2 separate regions of the Homo sapiens genome follow, and region 1 is linked to region 2. The links come from fine-mapping of genetic effects on gene expression. Tissue or cell type: whole blood. Region 2 holds a variant in brackets; the other region holds the start of a gene. All regions are shown on one strand. Distances are between the middles of the regions.

Evidence for each region. PIP is the estimated chance that this variant, and not a neighbour inherited with it, causes the effect.
Region 1: ZNF226 starts here. The variant in region 2 is fine-mapped to the expression of ZNF226 in whole blood (INTERVAL, PIP 0.93).

Annotation. Positions count from the first base shown.
Region 1 is chr19:44,160,407-44,168,522 of GRCh38, forward strand. ZNF226 (zinc finger protein 226) reads left to right here and starts at 4,694. Exons shown (of 6, transcript NM_001032373.2): 1 at 4,694-4,736; 2 at 5,351-5,401. RefSeq lists enhancers at 4,386-4,535, 4,596-4,715.
Region 2 is chr19:44,206,564-44,214,679 of GRCh38, forward strand. ZNF227 (zinc finger protein 227) reads left to right here and starts at 5,969. Exons shown (of 6, transcript NM_182490.3): 1 at 5,969-6,022; 2 at 6,527-6,681. RefSeq lists enhancers at 1,106-1,205, 1,216-1,265. The variant G/T (reference allele first, on the strand shown) is at 4,182.

The sequences.
Region 1 (8,116 bases), 46 kb before region 2:
TATTAAAATGGCGGCAGGTATCTGTAATGACAGGATAAAGAAAAAATATGGGCTTTGGAAGATCATAGACTATTGCCTTTGTAGCATAATGAAATCTATACATTTTTATGAGTGAGTGTGTATGTACATGCATAAGATAATATGTAAAGGATACTTTTTTTTTTTTAGCAATTTTCTCTTGCAATGAGCATTTTGTGGTATTTTTCCATTTTATAATTCCATAAATTACATTTTAATTTCTTATTGAACATCAGTATTACCAAAGCAGTAAATTATGTACATTAGAATTTTAAAAAGTGCTATATGATAATCCCTTCAAAATATGATTGTTCTATATTGTTATATGGCACATAAGATCATAATTAATAGATTCTGGAAGCCAATTTTAAAAACAAAAAAATTCTCTGAATATGTGGATAAATGGATGAGTGTGAACAATTGTATCTTTGCAATTAATGTCTGCTACACTTCTTTTTTTTTTTTGAGATGGAGTCTTTCTCTGTTGCCCAGGCTGGAGTGCAGTGGTGCAATCTTGAATCACTGCAACCTCCGCCTCGCGAATTCAAATGATTATCCTGCCTCAGCCTCCTGAGTAGCTGGGATTACAGGGGCGTGCCACTATGTCCAACTCAGTTTTTTTTTTTTTTTTTTCCCCGAGACGGAATCTCACTCTGTTGCCAGGCTGGAGTGCAGTGGCGCAATCTCAGCTCACTGCAACCTCTGCCTCCCAAGTTCAAGCAATTCTCCTGCCTCAGCCTGCTGAGTAGCTGGGACTACAGGTGTGCACCACCACGCCCAGCTAATTTTTGTATTTTCAGTAGAGACGGGGTTTCACCATGTTGGCCAGGATGGTCTCGATCTCTTGACCTTGTGATCCGCCCTCGGCCTCCCAAAGTGCTGGGATTACAGGTGTGAACCACCGTGCCTGGCCTAAATTTTGTATTTTTAGTACAGACGAGGTTTCACCATGTTGGCCAGGCTGGTCTCGAGCTCCTGACCTCAAGTGATCTGCCCGCCTCGGCCTCTCAAAGTGCTGGGATTACAGGCATGATCCACTGTGCCCGGCCTTGCTTGCTACATTTTTTAAAGCATTAATCTGTAACACAGAGAGAATCCTGGAAATGAAAACAAAGTGGTATACATATGTTAGGGAGGTATGTTTAAAAAGGTTCACTGAGGAAAAAGTGTGCATAAGAGCAGAATATAGTGCAATCCACTTACTGGATGTGGAACCAGTAAGGACAAAGAGTGGGTTTGAATGACATTCCATATTCCTTGGACATGATGGTGATATTTTCAGTGTAGTTGATTAAAGCATGGGTCCCTAACCCCTAGGCCACAGACCCTGTTAGGAACAGGGCCAGACAGCAAGAGGTGAGCAGTGGGCAAGTGAGCAAAGCTGAGTTCTGCCTTCTGTCAGATCAGTGGCATGAACCCTATTGTGAACTACGCATGTGAAGGATCTAGGTTGCAGCCAGGCGCAGTGGCTCATGCCTTTAATCTCAGCACTTTGGGAGGCTGAGGTGGGCGGATCACCTGAGGTCACGAGTTGGAAACCAGCCTGGCCAATATAGTGAAACCCCATCTGTACTAAAAATACAAAAATTAGCCAGGCATGGTGGCAGGTGCCTGTAATCCCAGCTACTTGGGAGACTGAGGCAGGAGAATCACTTGAACGCAGGAGATAGAAGTTGCAGTGAGCCGAGGTTGCGCCATTGCACTCCAGCCTGGGCAACAAGAGCGAAACTCTTTTTTTTTTTTTAAAGAAAGGATCTAAGTTGCTCGCTCCTTGTGAAAATAAAATGATAAATGTAATGTGCTTGAATCATCCCCAAACCATCCCCATCCCCCCACCTCACCTTGTGGAAAAATATTGTCTTCTGCAAAGCTGGTCCCCTGTGCCAAAAAGGTTGTGAACTGCTGGATTAAAGGGCTTTACTCAATAAATTATATCTAACTGGGGAGACTTTTTTCCACTATTGATTTTCTTCAGTATACCTTCACTGGATGCTTGCTACTCATTAAGGTCCATGCTACCTCAATGTGCATGGTATGCTGGGGATTGATAATACCACCTTCACATTCTTGTAATTCACTAGGAGGACTCAAGACACCCTATGTTATCATAGTCACTATGATTTATTGTAGTAAAAGATACCAAGTCAGTTGAGCAAAGGGAAAATGTGCATGGGATGAAGTCCAGAAGAAATCAGGTACAGGCTTCCAATAATCCACTCCCTGTAGAATCATTCATGATGTACTGTTTTTTCAGCATTGAAACATGTGAAATGTCTACCCAGTAAGCTCAATGGAGACTTAGTGCCCTAGGCACTACGTTGTGTTTTGTTTTGGAACTGGTCACATAGGCCAGCTTGGGCCAAAATTCTAGATTCCCAGAAGGAATTCAGCATAAATCACATTATACAAATAGCCGGGGCATGGTGAGCCACTCTCATCAGAGAATTGTGGAAATCCTCCTGAAATTCAAGTTCCCAGATACCAGTCAAGGGCTAACCTTATATCTTGCGCTGCTATAACAGAATACCACAGATTAGGTAATTTATAAACAATATAAATTTATCTGTCATAGTGCTTGAGGCTGGGAAGTCCAAGGTCAAGATGCTGGCAGGTTTAACATCTGGTGAGGGCTGCTGCTGTCTGCTTCCAATATGGCATCCAGTTGCTGCATCCTCTGGAGGAGACAGATGCTATGTCCTCATATGGTGGAAGTGATGAAAAAGCAAGAAGGGATTAAGTTTTAACAAGGGAACACCATCAAACTATAGCATGTTGCAAGCAGGCCTTTTAAGTACAACAGTCTCAGGCCTATGTTAACTCTTTTCTGAACAAAGGGCTTCAGAAATCCAGTACCTATATTCTTTTCTTTCTTTTTCTTTCTTTGTATCACCAGATACCACATTAGGTCATCTTCCTTCAAGGTAATTTGTAACCAAAACCAGTAGACTAAACCAAATAATTTCTTGCCCCTCTGCCCCATAACTGATAAGACTGTAGGTACAGTCTACATCTACCCTCCTCATGACCAGAGTTTTCAGGTTAGTCACAAGACAGCTGTAGAAGCTGGGAGCTATCTGGCTTTGTTTTTGGTTGGTTGTTGTTTGTTCACAGTCAAGAGGAGAGAACTGTTTCATTTGTAATATTGTATAGTTCATGTCTCCCAAAATGCATGGCTACTCTAACTCCCATTCACACACAAGATTAATTCCTTAGCTCTTACCTAGTATGCCCAGCCCTTGTGGGATCATTCAGTTTTTTCATCTGTGGGCCTAACTTGCCTGTTCATCTTTGGCCGTTGGGATTTCCCTGTCTTAGCTTTGAGTTTAGCTACATTTTAACGCTTTAGGGGATATTGTCACATAACATTTTTCTATCTTTGAAAAGATCCACAATATTATGTAATGATTACCACTATCTAATCCTAGAACTCTTTCATCTGCTCCCAAAAGAAATCCCCTACATGAGCTGGGTGTGGTGGTGCATGCCTGTAGTCTCAACTACCCAGGGGGCTGAGGCGGGAGGATCACTTGAGCCCAAGAATTTAAGGCTGCAGTGTGCTATGATCATGCCTGTGAATAGCCACTGTACTCCATTCTGGGAAACATAACAAGACGCTGTCTCTAAAAAAGTAAGAAAAAAAAAACCCTACATATTGACAGTCACTCCCCATTCCCAACTACATCTCCCCAGCCTTGGAGACAACTAATTTACTTTCTGTCTCTATGGACTTGCCTATTCTGCACATTTGATATAAATGGAATCATACCATATATGGTATCTTGTGTCTGGCTTCTTTCATTGGACATAATGTCTTCAGAGTTCATCTATGTTATAACATGAATCAATATTTTGTTCATTCACATTACTAAATAATATTGCATTATATGGCTAGACCACATTTTGTTTATCCACTCATCAGCTGATGGACATTGGGTCTTCTCCACTTTTTGACTATTATGACTAATGCTGCTATGAACTTTTTTAGAACAAGTTTTTGTGTGGATATCTTTCAGTTCTCCTGGGTATTTACTTAGGAGTGAAATTGCTGGCACATAAGCCCCAGATCGGGTGCCAGCAGATTCAGTGTCTGGTGAGGTCCCGCTTTCTAAGTCATACATGGTCCTTCTGGCTGTGTCCTCACATAACTAAAGAGGCAAAGGAGCTCCCTCAGGCCACTTATAAGAGAGCATTAATCCTATTCATGAGGGCATTGCCCTCTTGATCTGATCACGTCCCATAGGTTCCACCTCCTAATATCTTCTTGGGAGTTAGGATTTAAACATACGAATTTGGTGGGGGCCATAAACACTCAGACCATAATAATACCTAAAGAGAAGTGAGGGATTCTGGGAAATGAAAACCAGGAGCTCAAGGTAGTTGGACACTTCCACATCAGAAGGCTTGGACATTCCGGAAGTGTAGTCCAGGAGGGCGGTACTGTTCTGTTTTTCCCCCAACTCCAGCATTCTGTGATATGTAGTCCGGAGTTCCGTGTAGTCGCGCATAGCTCAGCTGCAGTAAGGCTGTAAATGTTTCCCCTGCGGAATCCTGGGAACTGTAGGTCCAATCGTTCTAGGTAGTTGTAGGCACTTCCGGCTCGAGGAAGGCAGTGCTGTGGAATTCTGGGAAGCGTAGTCCAGGTCCTCCTGATACTCGCAGGCACTTCCGCCCAGGAAGACGACGTAGCAGCCATCTTTTCCCTGGCTTTGGTGATTCAGGTCAGCTTCTCAGGAACCTTTCAAACTTCCCCGAAATGCACTTGTGGTCAGCAGCTAGCGGTCTTTTGTTTGGGGAAAAAAAGGAGTAGCGGCTAAGAGCGGAGGTTTGAGGGGCCAGGATGCTGTTTTGCGTTTCCCTGGGCGGAGCTTGTTAGAATTGGGGGCGTACTGGCTTCGGGCGGCTGGGGTGATGCTTCGTCGGGTTTGAAGGTCTCTCGGGCTGTTCGCTCCCTCATTGTGACTCCCCCACCTAATGAGCCAGCCCTACCACTTCATACAGTATCACATTGAGCGAGTTAGTTAATCCCCGTGCCTTCGTTTGCTGTTCTGAAGGAAAATAAAAGCAAAAACTTCCTAATAGAATGTTTTGAGAGAAAACGAGGTAATACAAAAAGTGTAAAACTGCCTGGCACGTGAATTACCAATACTACTGTAATTTTCCTAGAAACTCCCGTTCTGTGGCGAAATTCTGTGAGTCCATGAAGCTGGATTGTCCCTGACCTCTTTTGAGGAAGGAGAGGGTTGCTTCTAACTGGTCCTGGGAGATGCCACTGTGATGTATCCGGGATGAAGACACAATCCTGGTTACTTCATAGCCTGTTTTTCTTCCCCAGCCCTGACTTCTCAAAAAGCACTGCACAGAGGAGGAGGCAGCAGAACCCCATGTGAGTAAGACTTGTTGTTATTCTTGTTTTATTCACATAAATCAGAGAATGTGTGGGGTCATGTATTTGGGCATGAGAAGTGATTATAATTTAGCGTTAGTTGCTAAGTTCCATTCTAAGGGGTTTATACAAATGAACACCTTTCCACTATACAGTGGCTCTGTGAAGTGATACTCTTTTTCCGAGGAGACTGAGACATAAGAACATAACTTGTTTGCTCATAGCCACCTAGCTAGTAGGAGGCAGAGCTAGCATTGAAACCGAGGCAGTCTGAGTCTAGACCTGAGTCTTCTTTGGTATGTTCTGCATGAGCCATAGGCAGCTGGCTAGTATCATGTGAAAATAGGTTGGGACTTCACTGTGGGGACTTTGCTCAAGGTCTGGGCTATTCTATGACTTTTAAAAAATAGTGGCTGGGCACAGTGGCTGACGCCTGTAATCCCAGCACTTTGGGAGTCTGAGGCGGGCAGATCACTTGAGGCCAGGAGTTTGAGACCAGTCTGGCCAACATGGCGAAACCCCATCTCTACTAAAAATACAAAAATTAGCCAGGCGTGGTGGCCAACACCTGTAATCCCAGGAGTTTGGGAAGCTGGGGCAGGAGAATCGCTTGAACCCAGGAGGCGAGGCTGCAGTAAGCTGAGATCACACCGGTGCACTCCAGCCTCGGCAACTGAGCAAGACTCTGTCTCAAAAAAAGAAAAGAGTTTTTAAAAATAGTTTTCTCAATTATTAGTTTTATTTGTTTCAAATAATATAGAGGTAACACATAATCATGGAAAACACAGAAATACATTTAAAAAATGTAAATTCCCCATGACCTTAGGGTATAAAGATAACAACTATAGTTTAGTGCCTTTCTGTCAAGTTTTTCTTGTATATATTTCTGTTTATTAGGGGCTGTTTTGGGAGAGGGACTGAGTACAGTGCAACACTACTCAAACTGTGGTTCACAAAGCAGCAACATTGGCATCACCCAGGTAGAAAGGCTCATTCTTGAGCCCTACCGAAGGCCTTCTGATTTAGCATTTTTGCAGATAGGACCCAGAAATCTGCATTTCAACAAGATCCCAAGGTGAGCGAGATGCATGTTAAAGTTTGAGAAGCTCAGGAAAAGGTCTTATCTGGAAACTCAGGACTAGAAAACTGACCCTGCCAGATGTCACAGATAAAACTGAGCTGGCCATACTAGAACCCTACTCAGTCCAGTGATTTTTCTTTCCCACTAAATATTAACTGTCAAGTTTCTTTGCAAAAACCATGACATGAGTAGAAGGCAGCTGTCAAGTCTAGAGTCAAAATGGAGAAACTCAGAGTCCTGAAGATCTATTTCTCCCAGGCTTTGGGGAGTAGATTCCTTCCCATCTTTTGTACTGGAGGCCTTCTGCCTGAAGTGGGAAGATCAGCTACCTATTTATTGTTAATTAACGTTAGATATTATTGCCATAGTTGTCATCATCTCGTCATCGTTATTATTCTGATTAATGACTTTCCTAATTTCTTTAACTTTTTTTTTTTTTTTTTTTTTGAGGCAGAGTTTCACTTTTGTTGCCCAGGCTGGAGTGCAATGGCGTGATCTCGGCTCACTGCAACCTCCGCCTCCCAGGTTCAAAAGATTCTCCTGCCTCAACCTCCCAAACATCTGAGATTACAGGCACCCGCCACCACACCGGCTAATTTTTTTGTATTTTTAGTAGCGATGGGGTTCCACCATGTTTGCCAGGCTGGTCTCGAACTCCTGACCTCAGGTGATCCACCCACCTCGGCCTCCCAAAGTGTTGGGATTATGGGCATGAGCCACCGTGCCCAGCCAACTTTTTTTAAAAATATAATTTCAAACTTGTAGAAAAGCTGCAAAAATGATAACGTAAGGAAATCTCATATACTCTACACCCAGATTCACCAGTTGTTACGTTTGTTTGTTATGTTATGTTTTCCCTGTGTGCTCTGTTGATGACCATCAGCCATCACCAGGAACATACCTGTAACCAACAACAATTGTTTGTTTTAGCTTGCTGCATCCAAGGAGCCCACACATGCATGGGGTGTCTTGGTAAGAGGCAATTAGGAGGACCCTGGTTATAGGGTTTTGGTTTATGTTAGATGAGTTGGGGAGAGTTTTAGGCAATGGGTTTGTTCTGGATTGGATGCTGTGAAGAAGCAGTAGTAATTTGATCAGACTATTGTAATTTTTATGTTGGAGGTGGGGAAATAACAAGACTGGAGTTGTCACTGATAACAAAGTGGTCATGTTAGATGGAAGAGGCAATTATTTGGCTATTTTTATCAATGTAGGATGTATTTCTCTCTGTGTTACAAGCTGTTTTGTTTTTTTCTTTTTCACCATGATCACTGAGTAGACCTGTCTCATTCTTGTTGATAAATTGGAAACACCAGGTTCTGGTTGTTGCTGCTGTTGTCAAAGTAGTTTTTTGTTTTGTTTTTTTTTTTGTCTTTTTGCTTTCACAACTTTGTCATACTTATATTTTGTTTTTGTCTTTTTGCTGAAGTATTTGAGAGCAAGCTAGAGATAGTGATGAAAATGAAATTAGTTACATTGATAACTTACTGTTATCTAACCCACAGTTTGTATTTAAACTTACTCCATTTTCCCATTAAAGACTTTGAAAGTAATTTCTTCCCCCAGATGAGTTTCCAGTCTAATTGTATGCATTGCACTTAGTTTTGGTTTCATTAGTCACCTTTAGTCTAGAA
Region 2 (8,116 bases):
GGTGGTCTCAAACTCCTGACCTCAGGTGATCCAAGGGCAACGTTATCTAGCAAAAAGAAGCTTATTTCATAATAAAGTGTTGAATATCATATAATTTATTGAATAGGTATTGAAAGGGAAAAACAGAAGGGTTGTATAGGTACTGTACTGAATGTGTGTTGCTTTCACACCATCATGAAGTCGAAAAATCTTAAGTGAACCATTGTTAACTCCAGGACCTGTATATGATTTCAAGGCTTTCTATGTTTCCTTCTAATCATGTATTAAAAGCTCTCCTGTTTATCAGTGTTTTTCTCCTTATGAGTCTGTCAATCAATTTTTCTTTATAAAGTTTGCTTTACATTATGTAAGGCTGTTATAGTTGATAGAAAATTTTCATTACTATGAAGTGTTTCTTTGTATATCTTAAAATGTTCTTTTCTTCAAGGACTATTGTACTTTGTCCAATATTAATATATTTTAAAATTAGAGAAAGAATATGAGGCCTAGGACGATAGTCTCTTTCTCCATTAGAATATTTTTGTTTATGTCAGGTACCTGCAAACACTAACAGAAAAGGTTTACTTTAATCTATTTTCAGGTACGAATGTGATTTCAAGTTTTGCTTCAGTCCCCTAGTGAAGATGATCTATTTGCCCTTTATCTTTACTCCTGTAGTGCAGCTCTTTGGGTTTTACTAGGTACCCTTCTCCCGATCCCCAACTTCTTCCCCAAGGCCCTTGAACAACAGAATCGGTAGGTACCACCAAGACAGACACTTCCACTCTAAAATTGCAAATCTTGGCTAAGATTTGCTCTGGCTTTCTAGGATACCCGGAAGCTCAGGTTACTCGGAAGTATTTCCGCTCCAAGGAGCGGAACTATGGCCGGTTTCCCCTGGGGCATTCTGGGAAGTGTAGTCAGGGGCCCGCGTAGCCTGGGGCACTTCCGCTTTTGGATGGCGGAGCTAGGGAATTGTGGGAAGTGATCCGGGGTTTCTCTTTAGTTGCTGGGAAGTTTTTTCGCTCTAGGAGGGCGAAAACAAGTGTTTGGATCCGCTGGGACCCTCCAAGTTTTCTCAGCCTCGTCAGGGAGCAAGCGGGGCCCTGGCCCTCGTCTGGAGGAAGGCTAGAGAAGCTGTGGCCAGCTGGGAGGCTGGAGTTGGGAGCAGTTTGTGTTCTTTCCTCTCGGCTGAGCCTCACGTTTGGAGCAGTTCTTGCGTCCCCGGGTTGGGAGCGTCCTGGATCGGTTGTCGCTTGGTTAGAGGGTCTCCTGGCGTTCCGCAGCCAGCCTCTCCCACCTACTTGCCAGCTCTGCCACTTACTAGTGTTATAACGTTTTGTGAGTTAATCTTAATCTTTCTCTATCCCATTCTCCTCATTCCTGAAGTAGAGTCATTAGTAGGAGGTCCTTGTACTTTTATACGAATTATTCATTAAATGTCCAAAATACCGTTATGTGGTAGGTACCACTTATGTTCTAACAGAGAGACGAAGATAATAGACCTCTCCACACAATGTAGAAAAGAAAGCTGTCTTATTACTGAATAAGGACAACCACTGTATAGTATTGTAGGCAATCTAAAGAAAAATATTATTAAAAAATTCCGCCCTATGTGTACAGTCAAGCAGTTTTAAACTTTTTATACAATTCTACTTTTGACCACTATGTACATCAGTTCTCAAGATTAATGATTTTTCAATAAGAGGACTTGGTCTCATCATTTACTGCAAATTCTTTTATAAATTTATTCTAAATTTACTTGAGAATCCAGTGTTAGTTAACTAACTTTATCGAAAGTAATAAAACTTCTCTTACCTCATCTGCTAGCCGATTTACAGTTTAAAGAGAGGCACCTTGGTTAAACTCTTGCAGTGATAGGGACAGTGGGTTGTTATTTTCTCAGATGTTTATATTCAAAAGGGACAAATCTCAGAACTTTCACAAATACTTCTAGGTTGTAAACCTGGCTAGAGGCTTACATAGCCGCTAATGAAATTTACATGCGTATCAAAAGGTTAGAGAAAGGATTCAGAAGCACTAGGTTTCTTATGGAAATGCTCTAAGAAAAAGAAGAGGGAAGACGAACCCTAAAACGTACAGTTAGTAAGAGGCAGAACGTCCATATGAACCCAAGAAGTTGGAGCCTCAAGTCTGTGTTCATATTCTCCACGCTGTACATTTTTCTTAGAACCATATGAAATAATCGTGTATATGGTTTGTGGAAGTCTTTTTCTATCAGGTTTGGAAGGTGATCTGGGGCTTTAGAGTCTATATTCTCCTTATAGAAATAATGCATGACCATTATAGAGAGATTAGAAAATACAGAAATGTATAAAAGGAAATGAAAGTTACCCATATTCACTGCTGTATATTTAAACAATTAGCTGGGTGTGGTGGCACATACCGATAGTCCCAGCTACTTGGGAGGCTGAGGTGGGAGGATCGCTTGAGCTCAGGAGTTTGAAGCTGCAGTGAGCTATGACCACGGCACTGCACTCCAGCTTGGATGACAGCGAGACCCCGTTCCTTTAACCCATAATCTCAGGATTTAGAGATAACCACTGCTAACATTTTAAATGCATTTATGCATTGGTGCCATACCACCCACATGGTATTTCTCTAATTTTTCTTGTAGAAATTCCCAAACATGCACATACAGAAAATAGTGTTAATGACCCCCACCCCGCCATCATTTGTCTTTAACTCTTGTAAACATTTTGTCTATCTTATTGCATCTATTACTCTTCTCCCACATATGTTTTTGGTGGGAAGAGGAGGAATTTGACTATTTAAAATCAAAACCAAATCCTAGTCAGTCGGTAGAAATTAAAAGTAATTAACATAAAGTAATTATGAATGAAGAGCAAAGGAAAGCAAATAACTTCAGGGTTTTCTTTCCTGGCAACTAGGAGGAAGGTAGTTATGTGAAAAACCTAAAGGAGAGGGAATCATTGAGATTTGGAAAGGAATAGTTATGAATTTGGCTTCTTTATTTGGAATGTTTTACTCAGGGTCTTTTATTTATTTATTTATTTATTCATTTTTATTTATTTATTTTTGAGACGGAGTCTCGCTCTGTCGCCCAGGCTGGAGTGCAGTGGCGCGATCTCGGCTCACTGCAAGCTCCACCTCCCGGGTTCACGCCATTCTCCTGCCTCAGCCTCCTGAGTAGCTGGGACTACAGGCGCCCATCACCACACCCGGCTAATTTTTTGTATTTTTAGTAGAGACGGGGTTTCACCGTGTTAGCCAGGATGGTTTCGATTTCCTGACCTCGTGATCTGCCCACCTCGGCCTCCCAAAGTGCTGGGATTACAGGCGTGAGCCACAGAGTCCGGCCTACTCAGGGTCTTTTAGATCTGATCTGTTTCTCCCTTAGGCTGCATGTTACTTTGTTGCAGGAACTATGTCCCATTCTTTACCATGTGCTTAGCACCCAGCACAAGACTGGTAAGGAGGGGTTTAGTGTTTGTGGTTTGTGGAGCTGCCCAGTATCTTGAAATGGAAACCTGCAGATCATTTAGATTGTATTCAGAATTCCCAAAATGGATTTAGGAAAAAATAAAAGGAAATAATGTCAATATTAGTGACTCTTTATCTCACTTTTGGTGGGATGCATTTGCATAGTCTTCTAGTTTTTTTCCCAGTAATCAAAAGTTGATGCATGGTTATTGATAATATTTTAGTGATCAAAGCAAATTTTTGTAGAAACCTTCCATCCATAATTTATGTGTCCTGTGTTTATCCCCTGAGGTTAACATTTGCTAACTTTTTATAGGGTAGTCATGAATCAGGCAGAATTTCCAGTGTTTTACATGTATTTATTCATTTGTACTTGATATCAACCCTATTATAGTCTCCATTTTACAAATGAAGAAAAAGGGGACAGAAGAAATGGAAGCACTAGTATTTTAATCTAGATAGCTTTATACTAAGGCTGTAATATTAGCTACTACACACTACTTTTATTAGTCTACAAGGCAAGAACCCACAGTAAGTCTTATTAGAGCAGGGAATATTTAAGCTATGGATGAAGACCGTCACCCAGGAGGGAAAAGAGTAGCAGGTTATGACAGAAGGAACACCAAATACAAAGAATTAGAGGCTTTTTGTAGGAGTACAAGTAATCCACTATGGCTGGACATGTAGAGTGGAAAGTGGATTCCAAGAGAGAAACAGCATCTGGAAAATTCCTGTTT[G/T]TGCGACTTGTTAAAGCATTTGAACCTTCTCTTAAGGGCACTGGATAGACATGCAGGTGAAAATAATCAAATTTCCATCTTAGGAGATATACTTAACCTCTCTCTGCCTCTGGATCCCAAAGAGTAAACTAGAGGACATTATTTGTTTTAAAAAAGTTGTGAAAATGGGCTAAGTGTGGTGGCTCATGCCTGTAATCCTAGCACTTTGGGAGGCCGGGGCGGGTGGATCACCTGAGGTCAGGAATTCAAGACTAGCCTGGCCAAGATGGCAAAACCCCGTCTCTACTAAAAATACAAAAATTAGCTGGGCGTGGTGGGGAGGGGGGTGCCTATAACCCCAGCGACTTGGGAGGCTGAGGCAGGAGACTTGCTTGAACCTTGTGTGAGGGCGGAGGTTGCAATGAGCCGAGGTCATGCCACTTCACTCCAGCCTGGGCAAAAGAGCCAAACTCTGTCTAACAACAACAACAACAACAACAACAACAAAACAGAACAAAAAAAAAAAGAAAAAAGTTGTGAAAATGTAGTGAGGGTCCCATAGTCTGAATAGTTTGAACTAGTTCCTGGCACATACTTGGTTCTTTATAAGAGATAGTTGTATATAACAGAATAAAGAATATATATTTAGTAAATGAGAACTGCAAACATGTACTGTAGTAGATATGTGGATATTTTTAGGTATTGCTCTCTTCTTTCAACCCTCAATTCTTGGAAACATCAATTCCATTATACATTTAAGCAAATAAAGATCAAGGTTTAAACACTGAAGTAATAAATTTGTTCATCTTTCAAATTCAGAAACTCCTTGAGGAATGATTACAGAGGCCCTAGTTGCTTTGTGGAGTTGATCTACCATATGCCAAAGCTTGTGTTTTCTATGTCTAGCTATCCTCAGTAAGCAAGTTGTTCTGAATTATATGACTGTGCTATTAAGAAAAGTGGAAATCCATAATATATTCTGCCTTCGTTGCATTTTTTGATTGCTCTTTCATTCTTTTAGTATCTAAAGAGTAGTTTTTCTATTAGTCGATCCTGTTAAATGTAAAAACTTAAAGGGTTTCCTCTGCCCTTTTTTTTTTTTTTTTTGGAAGTGGTGGGTATAATTCTATTAGTACAGGATCACGTGATCTGTTTCTTATAATAGTTTTTTTTTTCTTTTTTTTTTTTTTGAGACAGAGTCTCACTCTGTCGCCCAGGCTGGAGTGCAGTGGCACGATCTTGGCTCACTGCACCCTCCAGGGTTCAAGCGATTCTTATGCCTCAGCCTCCCAAGTAGCTGGGACTACAGGCGCGCGCCACCACGCCCGGCTAATTTTTATATTTTTAGTAGAGACGGGGCTTCATCATATTGGCCAAGCTGGTCTGGAACTCCTGACCTCGTGATCCGCCCGCCTCGGCCTCCCAAAGTGCTGGGAGTCTTTTTTTATTTTAGGGCTCCAATTCTTCACATATTTGCTGTTACTTTTTGTTAATAAGAAAAACCTAAATTCCACTGACATCAGAGAACTGCTTCAGCCTGGCTAAACAGCAATAAGCCGTGAAGAGGATTCTGGATGTTGTAGTCCGGGAGCTCCGAGAATTTTGTCACACTCTCCGTAACCCTCTCTCACTCGCTCGCTCCGTTTTTTTTTTTGTTTTTTTTTTTTTCAAGCGCGAAGAGGGCGGCACCTGGATGGTTTTTCCTTCTGGAAGTTCTGGGAAACGTATTCCAGAACTCTGTCCGGAAACAATTGGGCCGCAGGAGCGCGGGCCTTCTGGGAAGGGTAGTTCAGGAGCTCTGGGCAGGCAGAGCCACTTCCGCCCCGGAAAGCGAGGCCGCCACCATCTTTTGGGTCCGGGAGGTGAGTCAGCCCTGCACCCCCACGACCCCTCTTGAACCTTTTCAGCCTGTGCTTGGGAATAGGCGCTCCCCAGCCATCAGTCTTGGGATGGAGAGGTCGCGGCCGCGGCGGAGGCCGAGAGGCCGAGGGCGGGAAGTTTGCTCTCCTCCCGCACTTGGCAAGCAGCGCCGCTAGTTCTGTGGGTATAATAAACAGCGAGTTACCTATGATCCGCGCTCCTGTTTCCTCATCTTTAAAATAGCAATAAAGATAGTCGTTACTGTGTAGGGTTGTAATTAGAATTAAACAAGATAATACGGGTCAAACCTTAGAACAGTGGTGGCACCTGATACTGGGTTGGCTCCTGCTATTGATACAGTGATTCCCTCACAAGCGCCCTTTTTACTGGAAGCTCCAGTGAAGAGAGAAGAAAAGTCAGGGCTTTATGCCATGGCCTTTCTGTCGTATCCTTCAGGAGACCGAGCTCTTCCCGAACTTTTACAGATCTTTTTTTTTTTTAAGAAGGATTGAGTCATCGGGCTCCAATGCGTGGGGATGTTTACCGCCGTTTATCCGGGATAGAGACTCCATCGTGCTGACAGCATCCTTTTATTCACCGCCTCCGAATTTGCAAAGAGGAGGAAGGAGGGACTTCTTGGCTTCTCCCAGCATAGCCCCAGGTACCTGCTCTTGAACGCACTTTGTTGTTCCATTTTCTGTCCTTTCAGTTAATCAAGTTTCCGTCACTCAGTAAGTTACTACTGAAAAATGATGAAATATTTGTTGAATAAATGTGAGAGTGGGTAGGAAAACTACTTGGAAATGAGTATTACCAATAACATCTTACCACTTTGATTTTAAGGCATTCGTCTGTGGACCATAGCTATTGATGAAGTAGGTCTTGTTATTTTGTTATGAGGAAATTAGGCAGAGTTTATGTTATTAAATACTTTCCCGAAGTTATTCAACTGATAGTAAGAGGTGGATTTGGGATTGAACCCAAGCATTCCTTTTCAGACTGTGTGATCTTTTTTGTTTGTTTTTGTTTCTTTGGTTTTTGTTGTTGTTTATTTTCTATTCCTTTTTCTGAGTCTGTGGTCTTAATCTCAATGATACAGTCGTCTTCAGTTATCTTAAATAGTAATCCATATGGCTACCGGTGAGTCGTTGGAAATCAGCCTTGGGAATGTAGGTATGGATTTTACTGTGGAAGACCTCAAAAACTGCACTGATGAATTTTGAATTTTTTAGAAAAATCCTGCAACATCTCACTTACTTAATTTCATTCCATGTCAAAATATGTCATATTCTAGTTATAGAAGTAATGAATGCTCATTATAGAGATGCACTATCCAATCCAGTAGCTATAAGCCATGTGTGCCCTAGGAGCACTTGAAATGTGTCTAGTCCAAATTGAGATGTGCTGTAAGTGTTAAATACACACTGGATTTCAAAAACTTTGTACAAAAAATGTAAGATGGCTCATTGATAATTTTTTGTATTATATGTCAAAATGGTAATATTTTGGATACATTGGCTTAAATTATGTTGTTGAAATTAACTTCACCTATTTTTGTTTTTGTTTTTTTGCCTTTTTTATATGTTACTGCTAGAAAATTTAAAATTATTTATGTGTCTCAGTATATTTCTATTGGACAGTGATGTTATATTCAGAAAACTTAAATTACTTATAATAAAACTGCTAACACTTTAATGTGTTTCCCTTTAGTATATGCTATGGATGTTTCTCAAAATAGGTTTGGTATTCTGTGTAGTAGTTTTTTTCTTATTATGAAAATTTTCTTTTTTCTTTTTTTTTCTTTTTTTTTGTGAGATGGAGATTCACTCTTGTTGCCCAGGCTGGAGTGCAGTGGCGTGATCTCAGCTCACTGCAACCTCCACCTCCCAGGTTCAAGTGATTCTCCTGCATCAAGCTCCCGAGTAACTGGGTTACAGGTGTGCGCCATCACTCCCAGCTAATTTTTGTATTTTTAGTAGAGACGGGGTTTCACCGTGTTACCCAGGCTAATCTTGAACTCTTGACCTCAGGTAATCCGCCCACCTCGGCCTCCCAAAGTGCTGGGATTACCGGCGTGAGCCACTGCGCCCAGCCGA